4 linked regions of the Homo sapiens genome follow. The protein of the gene in region 1 purifies or fractionates together with the protein of each later gene. This does not show direct contact. Each region holds a gene or a part of one and is shown in the gene's direction. Other genes may lie near its edges.

Region 1 (5,348 bases):
ATGGGCTCGAAGTTTTATTCCTTTTAAGAACAGAGAGGGAGAGATTAAACTGGGTGCTCAGGAGGAATCCAGGGGGACCTGGCTCTAGGCAAGAAGAATTTAAAACAGAACAGTCCCCCAACCTGAGTCTCCCACTAGACCCAGGCGGCGGTGCCCAGCCAAGGCACTGAGGGCCCAAAGAGTTGGCTCCCCTCTGGGCTCACCACTGACCATCTGAAAGACGTCCCTGCTTCCTCGGGTAGAAAATAAGTCAAACAGAACTACTTCTAGGGCCATGAGGATTGAAGGAGGCAACACTCCCAGGAGAGGGCCAGGCTCGTTGCACGCTCTCCGACCCTGCTGATGACAGTTTCCTCTTACAATAGTTGCCCTCAGCACTATGATGACCCAGGGCCTTGGGTGGACCTAAAGTGTTCAACTTTTGTCAGAAAATCTTTGCACGTGAGGTAGTGTGGCAGAACGAGAAGCACAGGTTCTAGAATCAAGGTCTTTTGGTGCAGATACTGGCTCTGCAGCCAGTGGCTGTCTAACTTTGGACACATTATTTCAGCTCTCTGAGCCTAGGCTTCCTCCTGGATAAAATGGGGACAACAGTGCCTGCCCCAAAAGTTGTTGTGTCCAGTAAACTTATGCTGAAAGGCTCAGCACTGCTCCCCACACATGGTTGGAGCTTAGTGCACTTTCATCCTAGTTGCTTCTTCCCATCAATGTCTTGAAGCAGACAAACAGATCGTGTTCTCTCCGCTTTCCAGAGGAGGCTCAGAGAGGTGAGGGGTTAAAATGTCTACTTTTATATAGAAGATGCCAGCCCAAAAATGACTGATCTGTGGGCTTCCCCTGCCTGTTCCCCCTTACAACCCCCCAAAACCTTTTTTTTTTTTGAGACGGAGTCACTGTCACCCAGGCTGGAGTTTAGTGGCAGGATCTTGGCTGACTGCAACCTCTGCCTCACAGGTTCAAACGACTCTGCTGCCTCAGCCTCCTGAGTAGCTGGGATTACAGGCACGTGCCACCACGCCCAACTAATTTTTGTATTTTTAGTAGGCACAGGGTTTTGCCATGTTGGCCAGGCTGGTCTTGGACTCCTGACCTCAGGTGATCTGCCTGCCTCGGCCTCCCAAAGTGCTGGGATTACAGGCGTGAGTCACCGCGCCCAGCCTTAATATTTCTTTTCTTTTCTTTTTTTTTTTTCTGTCCCCCTGACTCTAGAGTTTAGGTTCATGGTGTCTCCTTACTCCCTCTCCTACCATTTTGGAGAAAATCAGTGCAGAGAGATCTGTTTCCTTAACCCACAAAGGCAAGGGTTGGACTCTGTGGCCAGCAGTGCCCCCTTCATCCCCAGTAGGCATCAGAGCCACAGCTGTCTTCCTTTGCTCTGGGTGCTGGCCCACTGCCCCTCCCAACACTTCAGCAGGGGTCACTGGGTAAAAATGAAGGAGAGGGGTGACCCATCCAGGAGTCAGGACAGGGGTTTGGGGTCCCAACACAGCACTCACCACTTGGGGCTGCAGGGGCCAGCTCCCCTCATCTCTGGCGTTCACCTTTGAAATTAAAGTTTGAGACTGAACTTCCCTTAGCTCTGGTATTATATATATATTTTAGGGCCATCTGAGAAGGAAAACCAATCCCCAAATATGACACCTGTGTGGTACTCTACATGCAGAAAAGGGCACCCCCTCCTTCCATGAGCTTCCTCCATGTGCTTAGGGAATGCCGAGTTGGGCGGAGGGGCTCGTTGTGCCAAAGGCTGGGCGATCCAGCCCTGGGGCTCAAGGTCTTCAGCCAGGTGGAGCCACATCTACTGAAACTTTTTTTGGACACACTGTCCCTTTCATTCTCAGATAATCCCAAGAAGGAGGTGGCAGTTATCATTATTTCAGCAGATAAGGAAATCAAGGCACAGAAAAATGCTATGACTTGTCCCAAGTCACACAGCGGTTAATCAGGGGTGTAGGTCGGCCGGGTGCGGTGGCTCGTACCTGTAATACTAGCACTTTTGGAGGCCGAGGTGAGTGGATTACCTGAGATCAGGAGTTCAAGACCAGCCTGGCCAACATGGTGAAACCCCGTCTCTACTAAAAATACAAAAAATTAGACGAATGCAGTGGCACGACGAATGCAGTGGCACGACGAATGCAGTGGTACGTGCCTGTAATCCCAGCTACTCTGGAGGCTGAGGCAGGATAATTGCTTGAACCTGGGAGGCAAAGGTTGCAGTGAGCCGAGATCGTGCCACTGCCCTCCAGCCTGGGCTACAGAGCGAGACTTTGTCTCAAAAAATAAATAAATAAATAAATAAATAAAAATAAATAAATCAGAGGTGTAGGCTCTGCTCAGTTCTGTGTGGCTCCAGAGCCTTCCTCTCTCCAGGACACCAAGCTGAACCCCATCTCTAGGCCCTCACCCCTTTCCCAACATCTGAGAATTCAGAAAGCAGATCAAACATTCTATTGCTCTGTGACCTTCAAGCCCTGTAGCAGCCTGGGGAACAGTCATAAGGACTTCAGTACTTGGATGTAAGACAAATTTTGTTCATTTGTTCATTTATTTGCTCTTGAGACAGGGTCTTGCTCTGTCGTCCAGGCCAGAGTGCAGTTGCATGATCATGGCTCACTTCAGCCTTGACTTCCCAAGCTCAGGTGATCCTCTCACCTCAGCCTCCTGGGTAGCTGGGACTGTAGGCATATGCCACCACGCCTGGCTAAACTTTTTATTTTTTGTAGAGAGGGGGTTTCACCATGTTGCCCAGGCTGGTCTCAACCTCCTGAGCTCAAATGATCTCCTGCCTTGGCCTCCGGAAGTGTTGGGATTCCAGGCATGAGCCACCGCACCCGCCATAAGACAAAGTTTTGTCTTTGAGTCCACGTGGTGTTCACTTGGCTAAGATATGTGTCTTGCTTTCTTTCTGTAGTTGATTTCCTTCCCACCACTGCCCAGCCCACCAAGAAGTCCACCCTCAAGAAGAGAGTGTGCCGGTTACCCAGGCCAGAGACCCAGAAGGGTGAGTTCCCTATCCCTCTGCACCCTCAGAAACAAGGCAGACATCCCCTTGCCCTCCCTCCCTCCCCTCCTTCCTTCCCCAGGCACTTTCCAAGTGTCAACTCTAGAGCCTATCTCCCCGGCCTAAGCTAGGGTCAGAAAGGATGCTGAGTGTGCCAGCAACTCACAGTCTCGTGGGAGACAGACTCATAAATTGTTACTGGACAAAGCTTAATGGAGGAGATCTCCACCCACACCCCTGCACACAAATGTCCATAGCTTCATTATTCATACTAGCCAAAAGCAGAAACTACCCAAACATCCACCAGCTAATGAGCTGATTAACAAAATGTGGCTTATTTATTATCGTGGAATATTGTTTGGCCATAATAAAGAATAAAATGAAAGGAGCCAGTCACAAAAATCCATATACTATATGATTCCATGATTATGGAATATCCAGCATATGATCCTCTGTAGAGACAGAATGTAGATTGGTTGCTGCCTAAGGCTGGGGGCTTGGGAAAGAAATGGGGAGTGATTCCTAATGGGTATAAGGTTTCTTTTTAGGGGAATTTAAATGTTCTGAAATTACATTATGATAATGGTTGCACAACTCCATGAATACACTAAAAACCATGACATTGTACACTTTAAACAAGGGGACTTTATACGTAAATTATAACTCAATAAAGCTGTTAACAAACAAAAAATCCACTCAAAGGACCAGCACTTTAAACTTTTCCAGTTTTGGCCAGATGTGGTGGCTCACACCTGTAATCCCAGCACTTTGGGAGGCCCAGATGGGTGGATCGCCTTGAGCTCAGGAGTTAGAGACCAGCCTGGGCAACACGGTGAAACTCTGTCTCTACGAAAATGTAAAAAAATTAGCTGGGCGTGGTGGCACATGCCTGTAGTCCCAGCTACTCAGGAGGCTGAGGTGGATGCCTTGAGCCTGGGAGGTGGAGATTGAAGTGAGCTGAGATCCTGCCACTGCACTCCAGCCTGGGTGATAGAGCCAGACCCTGTCTCAAAAAAAAGTTTCCAGTTTTAATACCTAACAGAGGACCTAATACACAGTATGTGCTAGTTCATGAATACATGTTTGTTTGCAAATGAACACATTTGCTTCTCTATGCTACACCAGACACCTCAGCTGGAGTGTATGCCACATACACACACACACAGACACACATGCCCATGCACACGTTTTCCTTAAACCCATCAGCCCAAACGTGTTTCTGGAAAAATACTGACCTCAGCCCAGCAAAAGTCACTGGTGACAAACAGAAAGTGCCATCTGCTGCTACCCAGAAAACAAACCACAAGCAGCCCCTGGAGCACTGCCTCGCACTGCTCAGTTTGCTTTGTCTTAAATATTTTAAGCACCAGAAATTATTGAGGACGGCACTGAATAGGATCTGGGAGACCAGGGTGGGAAGCTGCCGTCACATGAGGTCACAGTAAAAAGAAAATCAGAACCAATGTACAGAAGAGTAAAGTCTTAAGGAGCTTAAGAGTAACCTTATTTTATAAAGTCCCATGCCCTGACCCCTTCACCTAAACGATTTCAGGCAGACTACCATAAAAAGGATATAAAAGGCAAATACAATAGAGCCACTAAGATGAGGGCGCAAGAACCGGTTGTGTGCTACGGCTGTGGAGAACCCGGCAACATCAGTTTAAACAAAGGGAAGACCCCAAGTTGTATGGCACCCCAACCCCAGTGATAGAAAGAAACAACCTGCCACCAAAAGAAGAAACCTTCATCCTAGCACTAAATTCGAGAAGCAATCTGCCCATTCATCTTCATGTAAGGACAGCTGAATGACGGCAAACTCAGTCATACTTTTATAAATGATGGCAAAAACAAAGGTCTTCAGATTTCTTGCATAATTTCTTTTCTTTCTTTCTTTTTTTTTTTTTTTGAAATGGAGTCTCACTGTGTTGCCCAGGCTGGAGTGCAGTGGCGTGATCTCAGCTCATTGCAACCTCCGCCTCCCAGGTTCAAGTGATTCTCCTGCCTCAGCCTCCAGAGTAGCTGGGATTACAGGTGCCCACCACCACGCTTGGCTAATTTTTATATTTTTAGTAGAGGCAGGGTTTCACCATGTTGGCCAAGCTGGTCTTGAGCTCCTGACTTCAGGTGATCCACCTGCCTTGGCCTCCCAAAGTGCTGGGATTACAGGCGTGAGCCACTACGCCTGGCCTCTTGCATCATTTCTTGTACTAACCCTCAGTAAATTCCCAGGGCAAAATGCAAACCAAACATTAATAGGTTATTAAGAATAACCCGGATGTGTGTGAAGGTGACCTAGTGGAGTAAGGCTGGGGATGGGTGTGGGGAAAGTAGGTGGAGGTTACACTGA
Region 2 (5,348 bases), on another chromosome or scaffold:
GCCAAGGAACAGCTGCCCAGTGTACATTCTCTGTTCCGTCCACTCACCACTCTCCATTTTCCTATGCACTCTGGTCTTTAGGATTCAAGAAGGGTAAGATTAGCAACCTTCAGCCTGGGAAGTTGCCCCTGACTTCTCTCTGGGCTGTTAACTGACTGGTGCTAACCTTGAGGGGCAGAAGATGGGTTTTCCGTGACACTTCTGGGATACACAGTGGCCTGATGGCCTGGTCTCACTGTGGCTCTGCTGATTTTTGGCAGTGAGCGCGGGGAGGCAGTTTCACTGAGTTGACCTACTGTGTACTGGGTTATCATAGTGCGATGCTGAGTAAGACAAGCTCCTGGCCCGCACCAGGTTCACCAACTAATACAGGAAAGTGACAAGGAGGCAAGCCATTAGAAGGCAGCACATGAGTGGTGGCACGCACCAGCAGTCCCAGCTACTTCGGAGGCTGAGGTGGGAGCATCGCTTGAGCCCAGAGGTTCAAGGCCAGCCTGGACAACGTAGTGAGATCCTGTCTCTTAAAAAATAAAAAAGAGAGGCTGGGTGCAGTGGCTTATACCTGTAATCCTAGCACTTTGGGAGGCCGAGGTGGGTGAATCATCTGAGGTCAGGAGTTCAAGACCAGCCTGGCCAACATGGTGAAACCCCATCTCTACTAAATTGGGCGTCATGGCAGGTGCCTGTAATCCCAGCTACTTGGGAGGCTGAGACAGGAGAATTCCTTGAACACGGGAGACGGTGGTTGCAGTAAGCCGAGATTGTGCCACTGCACTCCAGCCTAGGTGGCTGAGCAAGACTCCGTCTCAAAAATAAAAATTAAAAAAATAAAAATAAAAAAGAGACAGCTCTATTCTGTGAAAGTTGTGGAAACCAAGGGGAGGGAGGAGCACCTATTTCACCTTGGAGAGGGTCAGCCCAGTGTCCGTTAAAAAAGCCACCTTTAAATCAGTTCTGAAGGATGGAGGAGGTGGCAGCAACAGGACAATCATCACTCTAATTCCCAGGGCTTGTCTTTGTTGACTTAAACCATTTTCTTAGGGAAGAAGAACTGAGCATATGCGAAATTCATTTATACCGCTCTGCTCCTAACCTGCCTCAGTGTGAATATGTGCTTCTTGACATTGTTGTGAGTGATATGTACTTGCTAGTGTAGTCTTTTTTTTTTTACATGGCATGATTTCATATTTACATTTTCCTGCATAATGACATTTTCTATACACTTGTCATTTTTAATAGCACTATAATTTTCCATCATGTTGACATCCTATAATTTACCTTGTTATTTCTTGATTGCTGAGCGTTTGGGGAGTTTCCAGTTTTTCTTCACAAATAGCACCGTGTTATCTTTAGATAAGTTCATTTTTTTCCCTTTATATTCTTGGATTTATTTCTCAGTGAAATCACCCATTTGAGCAGGAGTGGTGGTGCTGCTCTTGTCACATAGCACCAAACGACATTTCAGAAAGAACAAGCTGATGCGGGCCGTGCCGGCATCACTGCCCCCTCCACCACGTCCCCACCCTGGGACTTAAAAGATTTAAACTTTTTTTTCCAAGTTAAAAAATCTTGGCCGGGCGCGGTGGCTCACGCCTGTAATCCCAGCACTTTGAGAGGCCGAGGCAGGCGGATCACGAGGTCAGGAGATCGAGACCATCTTGGCTAACACGGTGAAACCCCATCTCTACTAAAAATACAAAAAATTAGCCAGGCATGGTGGCGGGTGCCTGTAGTCCCAGCTACTCGGGAGGCTGAGGCAGGAGAATGGCGTGAACCCAGGAGACAGAGCTTGCAGTGAGCCGAGATCGCGCCACTGCACTCCAGCCTGGGCAACAGAGCGAGACTCTGTCTCAAAAAAAAAAAAAAAAAATCTTGGCCGGGTACAGTGGCTCACACCACTAATTCTACACTTTGGGAGGCTAAAATGGACAGATCACTTGAGGCCAGGAGCTCAAGACCAGCCTAGGCCAACACGGCAAAACCCTTCCCTACTAAAAATACGAAAATTACCTGGGTGTGGTGGTGCATGCCTGTAGTTCCAGCCTCTCAGGAGGCTGAGGCGGGAGAATCGGTTGAACCTGAGAGGCGGAGGCTGCAGTGAGCCAGGATCGTGCCACTGCACTCCAGCCTGGGTGACAGAGCAAGGCTCCATCTCAAAAAAAAAAAAATCTTAAATATATACTTTAAAACATTGTCTTTTTTGCTTTAATTCATTGTTAAAAATAGTGTGACATTGAGGGCAAATATTTAAAAGAAAAAAGTCTCCTCTAGTACCTCTCCAGCACACTTACTTTGGTTTTTGTTGTTCCTGCACATCTGCGTGTGTTATTATTATTATTATTATTATTATTATTATTATTATTATTATTATTTTGAGATAGAATTTCCCTCTTGTCAGCCCAGGCTGGAATGCAGTGGCGCAATCTCGGCTTACTGCAACCTCTGTCTCCTGGGCTCAAGCGATTCTCCTGTTTCAGCCTCCCAAGTAGCTGGGATTACAGGCGCCCGCCACCATGCCCAGCTAATTTTTTTTTTTTTAATAGAAACGGGGTTTCACTATGTTGGACAGGCCGGTCTCGAACTCCTGGCCTCAGGTAATCTGCCAGCCTCGGCCTCCCAATGTGCTGGGATTACAGGCATGAGCCACCGTGCCTGACCACCTCCCTCGCTTTCTGAGCTTCCTTGTTTCTTTGCCCACTCAATGCCCACTGAGCATCACTTAGTGGTGTTTGGCGTTCACATCCCTTTGGCTGAGACGGGGTCACCCTCATTTTGGCCCCCAGCCCTGAGCACAGAACCTGGCACCCAGCAGGCATCCAATCCAGCTTTCAAGGTTTTTTTGTTCTGCAAGTGCTGGCTTGAGCAGATCCTTCTGGATTGGCCAGCTGGGATCCTGTGGAAGCCCCAGGGAATCCGTACGCCCCAGGCAAGCCACGCCAGTGTCCAGGGGAGTGACCAGCTTACTTTTCTCCCTCAGGACTTCCTGGGCAGATACCCAGTCTCCAGGCACTCCTGGGTGGGGGCCTGGCGAGGCCCCCAGGGCTGGCACTGGATCGACGAGGCCCCACTCCCGCCCCAGCTGTGAGTGACCACGGGCTTTTCTCCCTCCTCTGCTGTTCTGGATCCTCCATTTCTCCCCAGACTCCACCTCCTTGCTGCTCCCCTAGCCTGGAATGCCACTTGGAAAGCAGCCCACGCCCATGCTCGCGGCCTGGTGCCTGATTAGACCCTGTCGCTTCACTCTTTATTTGGGTTCCCAGCACGTTCACCCAAGCAGGGTTGTCACCCCCATTTTACAGATGCGGGGTCAGCTGCCCAGGGAGGTTTGGGGATTCATCCAGTGCCACGTGGCTGACCAGTGCAGTGACTCACTCAGTGCCCAGGCCGGTAGAGGTGACAGGCACACACGCTGGAGGGTCTGGCTGGGAAGCAAGGCCCCGGCACCCTAAACACCTCTCCTCTTTCCCCTCCCATCCTTTCCCAGACTCCCTGAGGACGGCGAGGACAATCTGGATATCAACTGTGGGGCCCTGGAGGAAGGCACGCTGGTGGCTGCAAACTGCAGCACTCCAAGACCCTGGGTCTGTGCCAAGGGGACCCAGTGATCTGGGCTCTGCCTGGTCCTCAGCCTGCCAGGCAGATGCAGCACCCCCTACAGGGGAGGCCAGTTGAGAGCTTGGGCAGCCTCTTCCTGGACCCAGTTATCCAGGTCTTCATGCTCTGCTCAAGGGGGCCACATGAGCGAGCCTAGGAGCTGGACTTCAACCCAGGAAGATGCATCCGAGGGAAAGGAGATTTTCTATGGCCTCAGGCCTGAGTGCCAATATTAGTCTCCAGCTTCTGTGGATGATCGGTTTGATGACATTGGGATGGTTGTTTAGCATTTCTGTGCCTTGGTTTCATTAAAATGACAATTTCCCCCTAGAGGAAAAAGACAGGGTTAACAACCACAGCGGATTCCAATCTGGGTTCTCATTCCGGCTCATGGAAATGAGTCTGCCGTTGTTCAGTGGCAGTGGGACTTGGCAGGGATAACGTCATTGCTGTGAATTCTACTTCAGGCAGCTGGGTGTACATCGGACACAGCCTACCGGCAGCCTCTGGAAAATTAACCAAGGAAAAGGAGCGGTCAGCCCTGGAAAGAGGGGAGAGCAAGGTTTTCCTTCCCCACCCTGAGAGTTGGCAAAGGGTTGGCAGACAGGAAGGTTCTGGGTGGAGATCCCGCATGTGGGCTGGCCAGCCCCTGGCACGCTGATGCCCAAGGGTGAGACAAGGCAGAGAGGACAGGGCCACCTGGCAGGAGAAGCCAGGAGAGCACCCCAGCTTGGTAGGTGGAAGCTGAGGAGTCTGAGTGAAAAAGGAAATCAGAGAAATGCAGGCACGTTCCAGGCAGCTCTTCTACCCACAGCTGCAGAGACGACCAACCTGAAGATGTCTCCATGCTGGGGTGCAGTGAAGACCTTCAGGCTGGAGGATGTGGCTGACAGAGTTGTGTAGTTCCTTGAGTCCAGCTAGACCTCCAAACAGCAGGAGCCTGGGCCTGCGTGTTGGCTTGGTGCTGAGCACGCACTCAACTGGCCCTTGCAAGCCAGCCTTCCCTCAAAAGTCAGACCATGCACCCAGATCCCTCCCAAACAGAAATCCTTATTGGTGCGTTTGAACCAGTAATGGGCCGTCTGGGAGAATGGGATGGAGAGTCCTAGATGGGAGAAATTTCTCACACTGTATTTTTCATTAGTATTATTATACTTTAAGTTCTGGGGTACATGTGCAGAACGTGCAGGTTTGTTACATAGGTATACACATGCCATGGTGGTTTGCTGCACCCATCAACTTGTCATCTACATTAGAAATTTCTCCTAATGCTATCCCTGCCTTCTCACACTCCTGAAAGTAATAACAAAAAGGGAAATGGAGGCCGGGCACGGTGGCTCATGCCTGTAATCCCAGCATTTTGGGAGGCCGAGGTGGGCGAATCACAAGGTCAGGAGTTCGAGACCAGCCTGCCAGCCTGGCCAACATGGTGAAACCCTGTCTCTACTAAAAACACAAAAAAATAGCTGGGCGTGGTGGTGGGTGCCTGTAATTCTAGCTACTCGGGAGGCTGGGGCAGGAGAATTGCTTGAACCCAGGAGGCGGAGGTTGCAGTGAGCCGAGATTGTGCCACTGCACTGCAGCCCGGGTGACAGTGCAAGACTCTGTCTCAAAAAAAAAAAAAAAAAAAAGGACATGGAAATTCCCTGGCTGGATGTGAAATGGGTGGCTCACGTGGGGCAGGCGCCAATCAAAATACATCCTATGTGGGCAGGAAGCTGTGTATGTTACCGCCCCCATCCCCTGCCATGTGT
Region 3 (4,131 bases), on another chromosome or scaffold:
CCATTTGCTGGAGATTGAGTGCAGAGGAATTCCCTAACCAATCAGAGATATCCCGTGATTCCAGGATTTCAGAGTCCTTTGTCTCCTCTGAGGTGTCACCTTCTTTGTGATGTTTCCTTTGACTCATTGTTAGATTCCTCACACCAAGGGTCTATCCCTACAGTAGCATAACTCAAGGAACGGGACTCTTCCCAGTGGGTCCCTAGTAGCATCTACATCACATCAAAGGGCAATATATCCTGCACCTGCTCTTCCCCTCGGAGCAAAGCCCCAAGTGGGATAGGATGTTGGGGACTGCCAGAGCATTCCCATTCTCTGAGCAGCATCATACCTCCATTATTTTATATTTGCAAATGTGTTTTGTAGAGGATTACACTGGCCAACATTTATATACCTTTAAAGAAATTATTTTAGTGACTGTCTGTTGAGGCAGTGAAGAGCTGATTTGCTGTGTGTCATCCCATTGGATAGCTGAGTGACCGCTCTTGCATCATTGAAGTTGAATCATGCCTTAGCTAACTGAATATAATCTTTGTAAAATAATTTTCTACTGAGCTGTTTTCTAGTCAGCTAAAGCCTTGCTTATTTTTCCTGTTTATTATTAACTTCTGCCTTTCTCTCAAATTGAAACAGTCAGGCCATACACAGCAAGCTCCCAAGGATAACACTTGTTATTATTTATTTTCACCATGAGATTCTCTGCTTATTTTCTTTGGAATCCTAGTTCTGTTGCATCAGGGAAGCCTAAGGGACTTGTTCCCCTCACCTCTGTGTGCCTCTTAGGGTCTGGTCACTTTTGAAGTCCTGGGCATGGTTACATTTCATTCATACTGGTTTTTCACCAACTGTCAGGGTTTCTGTGTTCCATTAGCACAAAATAGCTAAAAGAAGATATTTTCACTGTCTAATTCACTATTTTCATGTTACATTTCTGAAATAATTGAACTTTAGGGGCAAGATACTACTTACTGAAGCACAGGTAATTACTGAGAACCCACAGCCCAGCAAATTCTAAGAGACAGTCATTTCCTCAGCCCCTCCCAGTCCAAATTTATAGACCCAAACAATGAAATGAAAACCGTTTGCTTTGATCCTCACCCTGTTCTCTAGAGCACAAACAAATAGTAACAAACAATTGAAAGAAAGTGCTTCATAGTAGGAGAGAGATTGGAATTCTCTATAGTGACTGAGTTCTTAAATTTCTTTAGTTTTAGTTTTGCCACTTTGTTGAGAGATGGGCCTTTTAGAAAGGAAGACATATTTAAAGTATTGATTTCTTTTCCCCCAGTGTTTTATTGTGAAAAAATTTCAGCAAACAGCTTAAAAGAAATATAAATATATTGTAAACCAAAAAGTATCTGAGACAGGTCTCAATACATTTAGAGGTTTATTTTGCCAAGGTTCAGAGCCCATGATGGGGCCTCAGGAGGTTCTTAGAACATGTGCCCGAGGTAGTCGGGTTACAGTTTTATACATTTGAGGGAGACAGAAGGTCCAGGCAAAGCCATAAATCAATACATGTAAGGTATACACTGGTTTGGCCTGGAAAGGCAGGACATCTTGAAGATGGGGGTTTCCAGGTCAGAGGTAGATCAAAGAGTTCCTGACTGGCAGTTGGTTGAGAGAGTTAAACTTTACCTGAAAAGATGAAGTCAGCTTAAGTTAAAGTAAGGGAGGCTTGGCTTAAGTCATGTAGATGAAGCCTCCAGGTAGCAGGCTTCAGAGAGAACAGATGATGAATTTTTCTTTTTAGGCCTTAAAAGGTGTCAGACTCTCCAGAAAAGACCTAATAAGAGAAGGAGATTCTCTACAGAATGCAGTTTCCCCCACAAGAGACAGCTTTGTAGGGCCATTTCAAAATACGTCAAATAAATATATTGGGGGGTAAATTTCCTTTGGGGCCTGCTGTCATGTGATGCTATACCAGAGTCAGGTTGGGATTTGGTATTTTATTGCCACAAAGGGTCTGTTTGGTTAGTCTTAAGATCTCTGTTTTAATGTTAATGCTGGTCAGTTGTATTTAAATTCCAAAGGGAAGAGGGTAATATGAGGCACCCTGTAATCTGACCATAATATGAGGCACCCTGTCTTCCCATCATGGACTAGTTTTTCAGGTTCCTTTGAGATCCCCTGGGCCAAGACAGGGGTCCATTCAGCCGGTTGGGGGATTTAGAATTTATTTTTGGTTTGCTGTATATATATGTATACACACACTCCCCGCATAAATGTAAAAATTTTAAACTACCAATTCCTAGGCAAAGATGATTCTAACATTCTGTTCCTTTTGACAAGTGTCCAATTAGAGAATGCTGAGAATGTCCCCTGCATATCGGCTCTGTTGGAGAGCCCCTGATTTTTAGCAGACCTGTTTCATTCAACATGGGTTACCCAGGAGGTGGTCTTCATAAAAATGTTTCTTGGAGGCCAGGCGCCGTGGCCCACGCCTGTAATCCCAGCACTTTGGGAGGCCAAGGTGGGCAGACCACCTTAGGCCAGGAGTTCGAGACCAGCCTGGCCAACATAGTGAAACTCCGTCGCTACTAAAAATACAAAAAATTAGCTGGGCGTGGTGGCGGGCATCTGTAATCCCAGCTACTCTGGAGGCAGAAGCAGGGAGAATTTCTTGAGCCCAGGAGGCAGAGGTTGCAGCGAGCCGAGATCATGCCACTGCACTCCAGACTGGGCAACAGAGCAAGATTCCGTCTCAAAAAAAAAAAAATTGTTTCTTGGTCTCCATCTTTCAAGAAAATACATCTGTGCTGTATTTTCCCCTTCCCTCAGGCCATGATCTCTGCTGTTTTCCTTACTAACTGGCATGTCAGTACAAGAGTGATTGTGAAGCTGCTCCGGAAGGGCTTTATGCTAACCTCTGTTGCTTGATGACATGTCCTCAGGACTCTGATATTAAAACTCAATCCTTAGATAACAGGTAGCTTTATCATGGAAGTAGGTAGCAATTTGGAATTAGACCATTCTTAGTTATTTTTTTCTTAATGAATTGATACATGCACTTTAAAAAATATTTTTGTTATTTTGGGAAGAAAAACTCAGACTTTTAAAAAAGTGTATATTGTCCCATTATAATATGTATATGGAAGAGTGAAATCTGAACGCTGTCTTATATTAAGCAGTAGAATTAGGTATTATCATAAAAAGTCTTAATCTGTAGGGAATATGAGTTTATGTTTATGAGTCCTGCTCAGTCCCTCTTTGAGAGAATTAGTTGAAACCCAGACTCTAAAGTCTGCTTTTATATTTGTTTGTTAAGACCACTTATCTGCAGAAGGTTGCCTTTTAACCCCAGTGGTTCTAAGGTGTGGAATTGAGTGACCCTAATATTTACATAAGAGACTTGTTTTAGTGGAGCATAAGGGAGGGGCATAAGTTACACCGTTTTGTGCTGCTTGAGAACTGTCTTTTAAAATTGATCACAACGAGGGAAAACAAAATAAAATTAGGGGGCAAAGGGTAGGAGTATGGGGGGAGGGGAGAGCAAACCTATCGAATATATCTTAGAATTTTGCTCAGAAATCACTGCTGCCTCTCAAGTGTTGCATTGTCCCTGCCTAAACCAAGAAGGCTAAACAAAGCCCCTCCTGTTTGAATTCTTAAGGTAAGAAATTTCTAAGCTAAGAAAACACTATTGCCTAAAACCAATGATAGTGGAGCTCATTTACAAATAGGCATGCCTCACACACACAGTCCAAAGGCAAGACACTGGCTTTGAAATTAGGCTCATGATGTGATTCCTATTATATGTACCTGATTTTTTTAGGCCCCAGGTATGTGGACCAGAGTTAATGTCATGACTCTTCAAAGATATGATGAAAAGTTGCCCTAGAAATCTAGAGATGCATGTTTATTTAATTCCATAGTTTAAAAAAAAATTTAAGCAGGTAGTTGTGGCTTATCTGGGGGCAAAATAATATATGTGAAATTGCTTCCAGAGGACAAAGTATATTTTCTAAAGTCCTGAAATAGGATCATGAACCCTTCTGAAGTTTTGGTTTGAAATATTATAGTATATGATATTACCAAAGAGCCCTTAATTCAGAGTTTAAGGGGCTCTCTTCCTGAACTCTCTTCATCACTCAGGGTTGAATGTGTAATGTTCCTTGCTATTGATTGTTA
Region 4 (5,348 bases), on another chromosome or scaffold:
TTTGTATTTTTAGTAGAGATGGGGTTTTCCCATGTTGGCCAGACTGGTTTCTCAAACTCCTGACCTCAGATGATCCACCCGCCTCGGCCTCCCAAAGTACTGGGATTACAGGCGTGAGCGACCGTGCCTGGCCTATATTCTTGTTAGTAATGTATGAGCAGGCCATTTTACTTCACTGTCATTCATTATTGGAAGTGTATTATTTTTATATAGTTTTCAATTTAATAGAAAACATTATCTTAATTTTTATATTTAGACATTATTCATGTGATTGAATTACTTTTCACTTTTTTTCTTGCTATATAATGTGTTTTTGTATTTAAATTGCCTTCCATTAGTAGTTTTTGTCAGGGCATGAATGGGGAAAGGAGTAGTGTGGATAAATACTATGCTTTTTATTTTTAAGGGGGGATGAGAATGTTAAGTTGTTTTAAGGACATTTGTCAGTTATCCTAAATTTAAAGAAACCTTTTTATCTCTTTAAAGGATTCATTTATTCATTAATTTATTTATTCCTTAGCATGACTATATGAAGGAAGAGGAAGGTTTTCCTGAAGATGAGGCGACTGAATCGGAAAAAAACTTTAAGTTTGGTAAAAGAGTTGGATGCCTTTCCGAAGGTTCCTGAGAGCTATGTAGAGACTTCAGCCAGTGGAGGTACAGGTGAGTATCAGTTAACATTAAAAGTTCTGTAGTAAGTACAACTTCTGCGTGATCCAGTCAACAACATATAGAAATGTAGCCATGAGGAAGAATTTATCAATGAATTCTGCCGTAACTTCGTAACTTGTCTGTCTTCATGCCACTCTGTTGGCTGTAATTCTTATTAATATTCTCTATAGCCTCCAACACAGTGCCATCTGTGCCTTTGGCAGTGTTTATTAAAACATTAATACATTAAACCAATGTTTCTGCTTTGCTGCCCTTTCCTAAATATGTGACCTTGAGGAAGTTATTCAAATCTATCTGTCTTAGTTTCTTCCATGAAATAGGGATCATACTAGTATTTACCTCCTAGGGGTTACTATACTATTAATATTTTCATAAAATGCTTAGACCCAGTGCCTGGTACAGATAAAAGTATCAGTTAAGTAAAATAAATAATGAAATATATAAGAAAAATGTGTGACTATAACAATATTCAGTATAATTTCTTTCCCTATGAAAAGGTAGTAAAATAATGTATTTCACTTAAGGTTGACATTTTATTTGGTAAAATGGGTAATAAGTTGCTTACTATTTCTGATCCACTTGTGATTAAGTTTTGTTAATGAAAATAGTGCAAGTTCTTGCAAAATCTATTTTAAGTATTTTGCTTTAGTATATAATAGATTTTCTTTTTGTCAGATCTTTTACTCAGTTCTGTGAATGAGGTGATATATTTAGGAGATTGCCAAGTAGAGGAGAGTTTTGTTAGCTATTTAGAGATGTTATTTGAGTTTCTGGCACACAGATTATTGTGGTTTCTCAGGATCTAAGAAATTAGGCTACCTTTTTGTTTGTTTTAAATTGGGCTTATAGCCCAATTTATATACATTTATATACAAATTATATTTATAGACATGGATGCATTTTTAATAATGAAGCAACTGTTTTCAAATTTGTGCTATAAGGCATGCTTACTTTCATCATTTATCCTATCTGTGACACTGTTTTATATAAGAAATACAAATTTTGTCAACTCTACTTAGTGAGAGATGCCCTTAAAATTGGAGAAATAAAATGCTTTCTTAGTAATGCAAGTGTTTATGTTCATATTTGTATATATTAAACCTTAACTTTTGAGCTGTATTAGAAAAAATGCATAATAAACATTTTGAATAAAAACCTTCTATAGTATGCATTCAAATGGAAGTTACATTATTAGGCTTTTTCTTTTGAAAATTTAATCTCACTTAAATTAGTTTCCTATTCTTTGCTTTTTTTATTGTTTTAATTCTGTTTTTCTTTTGTTGTTGGATTTCCCAGTTTCTCTAATAGCATTTACAACTATGGCTTTATTAACCATAATGGAATTCTCAGTATATCAAGATACATGGATGAAGTATGAATACGAAGTAGACAAGGATTTTTCTAGGTAATCATTTTTTTTCTTCTTGGAATACCTTTAGATTCAAATTGTTTTAAAAAGAGCATACCTTTTAAAAAAGAAAAAGTCTAACCTTCTAGATTTGGTTTGTTTTAGTTCTGAAGAAATAGTCCTGAAAAATTCTCATTAATTGCATGCATTAAGTGAAACCTTTTAGAATCATTTAAATAGTGGTTGAATTCTAAAACTGAGGTTCTTTGATTTAGCATGCTTTGTTTCAAAAAGTTAGGGGAATATTTTTCCTTAGATATGTATATTGTGGAAATTGTTTAATATTTGAAACTGGTTGAAATACCTCACTGATCTGTGTGAGCTGGAAAATAAGTTGTCTAAGGATACATTGTATACCCTTATGACTTGATGTCTATAAATTATACCTAAGCTAAATCTTTATGTAAATAAGATTACTTTTAAACTTTTGAAAATATAGTACCTTAATTATACACTTTACATCTATTCGTTTGTATTATTTGGATTTCTTCAATGGAATGAAGATAATAGGTTTATAATATTAAGATTGCACCAAATAGGAAGACACATTTAGTTTTCAATTACAATCCAGGTTTGCCATTTACATAATTTTAGGGAATTTACTAAATCTGCACCTGTATATGCTTCAGTTTCCTTTTTTGTAAAGTACAGACAGCAATTATAGTATCTTCCTCAAGAGGTTTATGAGAATTAAATTAGTCAACATTTGTAAATTGCTGTGTAACCTTGGGCAGGTCACACCACTGACTTCTTTTGGACTTCAGTTTCTTCATCTCTAATGTACTATTCAGGATAGTATTGGTTTTCAAAGAATTTGTTGTTGTTTTCAGCACCAATGCAATACTTCATTTTTTTCCAAATGAAGTCTTATGTATTACATAGTTCGCCACATAAGCATGGTGAGGATATGCAGAAGTTTGTCTACTTGGCCTACTCCTGGTTCCTATCTCCTGAGCCTAAACTCCTGGGTTATTTGGAACACAGTTTGAACTCTAGATGACTTTAAGACTTCATGAAGGTCTAAAAATCTGTAATTCCTATTTTAAATCAGATGAAAATTATTACACAGAAAAAAGTTATCATAGAAAGCACAGGACTGAATTTGATCATAGCCAGTCTATTATTCGCAATGCTTCATTCTGGTATTCGAAAATTGCTTTGATCTAATCATTTGAAAATGAAAGGCCATGAAAAATTTTAAGCATCAGGTGATTTACTTTTGGTAGTTTGGTTGCATTTATCCTGAGTTACATAGACCTAGTTTCCAGTATGCCACTTTAATGGTGATGTGATCTTAAGCCAGGTATTTACACTACCGTGAACACCAGTGGTTTACTTGAAAATCTGTGAAGCCATCCATTTATAGCTCCATGATATAGAATAAAGGAGATAATATTTGTAGAACATCTAGCATCATGCTTAATATATGGTGTTTGATAAACAGAGAAGAAAGACAATTCCTAATTCTTGATTTTGAGAGTTTTACATTCTTAAAAGAACATTCTATCAAAAGTTTATGTAAATAGAGATTAAGAGGTTAAGACTTTTTCTGAGTTGCTTAGAGTTATTGATTATAGAGTTGCCATTATTAAAGGATACTGTGTTCAAAAACCTGTGAAGTCAGAAAGGCTTTTGGAATAAGGGCAAAATAGAACTTGTAATTTAAAGAGCCTTTGTTTTGGCCATGAGAAATGCAATTCAAGTTCTAATCGACATAATTTATTCTGCTTGAAATCCAAGTTTTTAATAGGTCAGTTGATTTATATTTCTCATGTTTTGCTAATTAATTGGTAGGTACTAATGTTTAATATTTTGTCTTTCAGCAAATTAAGAATTAATATAGATATTACTGTTGCCATGAAGTGTCAATGTAAGTACACCTTCAACTTGCTGAATCCACATGTAGGTTATGGTTCAAACAATTGCCAAGCAAAAATAAAAATCACTGGTTGTACTTTATTTTTCCTTTATAATATTTTAAAGTTTTACTGTGGTATTATTTAATAATACAAATTGTTTTACTCCTCAGCTTATATTCTTCAAGTTTCTTTTCCATAAAGAGAAGAGATAAAACTTTCACATTAGTATAATTAAAAGAAAGTTGGAGGAAATGTTTGTGAATCAGCATTCTAGTTTATGTACATCCTTTCTGTCTTTTTTTGTTTGGAGTACTAGCTTTTATACCCATGTTTCACAAGCATATCCTTGTGTCACTGTTTCAGTTTACCACCTTTTATGTTTACTCTTGCGTTTAAAAATACAGATCCAGTTATTTTAAGTTAATGGTGATAGGTTACCCTTTTCTTTTTTCGTCACTGGACTCACTTGGTTATACTAATAGAAGTGGAAAAATGCTAATATGCCAGATAGTGAATGTTTGAATCAATACTGTTTTCAAAAATAAGAATGCTTTTGCATGAAAAATATTTTATGAGTTACTGCTTAAAAATTACAGACCAAGAACTCAGAGAAAATTTTTACATTTTTAAAAGTATGAAATAATTTTACCCAATTAATTAGAGGTTATTTTCTGTGAGATTCTATCTCAGAACGACCTTGAATCTCTTTCTTTTCAATATGTTTTTCCTTATGTTGGTGGTTTTAAGAGATAAAAAAATACTTTATTTTTAAACTTGTAGTTAGTGGTAATTCTGAATATATGATATTCTGCCTTATTTTGGATGTTTAAATACTGTTAAATTTTAGCCTTTTCCGAATAAAATTTCCTATTTGTTGATTTGTAGCATAGCTTTACGATTTCTTTTAATCTCTAAAAATATTTCTTGGAATTAATATTTTGTTCAGCAGCCACTTAGTACTTGTGATTAGGTTCTTGCCGATATTTGCAAAGCTCTTCAATTCAGTGACGCTTATCCTTTTTAAATGAGATCTTGAATTATCTTTTTTTTTTTATTGGGTAAGAAGTTTTTTACTGGGTAAGAAAAAACATTATTACATTTTGGAATAATCTCCACCTAAGCTATATAAGGCTACTGTTTTAGCTTTTGGACAAATATATCGGAAATTATTCTACATAGTTGGTGAGGTTTTTTTTTTTTTTTTGCTTGGTGAGTTTTCTGTTAGTTGGCTTAATTTGTTTATATTGGGGATGGTTTGCCTCCAAGCATAGAATGTAAAACTTCTAATTCTTTTTTCTATGCAGATGTTGGAGCGGATGTATTGGATTTAGCAGAAACAATGGTTGCATCTGCAGATGGTTTAGTTTATGAACCAGTAAGTTTGATTCACATGGTTTTTTGAAATACAC

The links. Proteins that work in one complex are often made in the same cells at the same time.
Region 2: the proteins of CD8B (region 1) and KLRG2 purify together in Homo sapiens (affinity purification with mass spectrometry; one large-scale study listed by BioGRID and IntAct). This does not show direct contact.
Region 3: the proteins of CD8B (region 1) and TMED8 purify together in Homo sapiens (affinity purification with mass spectrometry; one large-scale study listed by BioGRID and IntAct). This does not show direct contact.
Region 4: the proteins of CD8B (region 1) and ERGIC2 purify together in Homo sapiens (affinity purification with mass spectrometry; one large-scale study listed by BioGRID and IntAct). This does not show direct contact.

The regions. Positions count from the first base shown.
Region 1 is NC_000002.12:86,850,650-86,855,997, reverse strand, and holds part of CD8B (T-cell surface glycoprotein CD8 beta chain isoform 5 precursor), read left to right. Parts: intron 1-2,911; coding exon 2,912-3,001; intron 3,002-5,348. UniProt on the Homo sapiens protein: Integral membrane glycoprotein that plays an essential role in the immune response and serves multiple functions in responses against both external and internal offenses. In T-cells, functions primarily as a coreceptor for MHC class I molecule:peptide complex.
Region 2 is NC_000007.14:139,451,844-139,457,191, reverse strand, and holds the end of KLRG2 (killer cell lectin-like receptor subfamily G member 2), read left to right. Parts: intron 1-2,977; coding exon 2,978-3,081; intron 3,082-3,484; coding exon 3,485-3,605; 3' UTR 3,606-4,502; downstream 4,503-5,348.
Region 3 is NC_000014.9:77,335,982-77,340,112, reverse strand, and holds part of TMED8 (protein TMED8), read left to right. Parts: 3' UTR 1-4,131.
Region 4 is NC_000012.12:29,366,843-29,372,190, reverse strand, and holds part of ERGIC2 (endoplasmic reticulum-Golgi intermediate compartment protein 2), read left to right. Parts: intron 1-520; 5' UTR 521-557; coding exon 558-663; intron 664-1,968; coding exon 1,969-2,077; intron 2,078-3,903; coding exon 3,904-3,950; intron 3,951-5,243; coding exon 5,244-5,314; intron 5,315-5,348. UniProt on the Homo sapiens protein: Possible role in transport between endoplasmic reticulum and Golgi.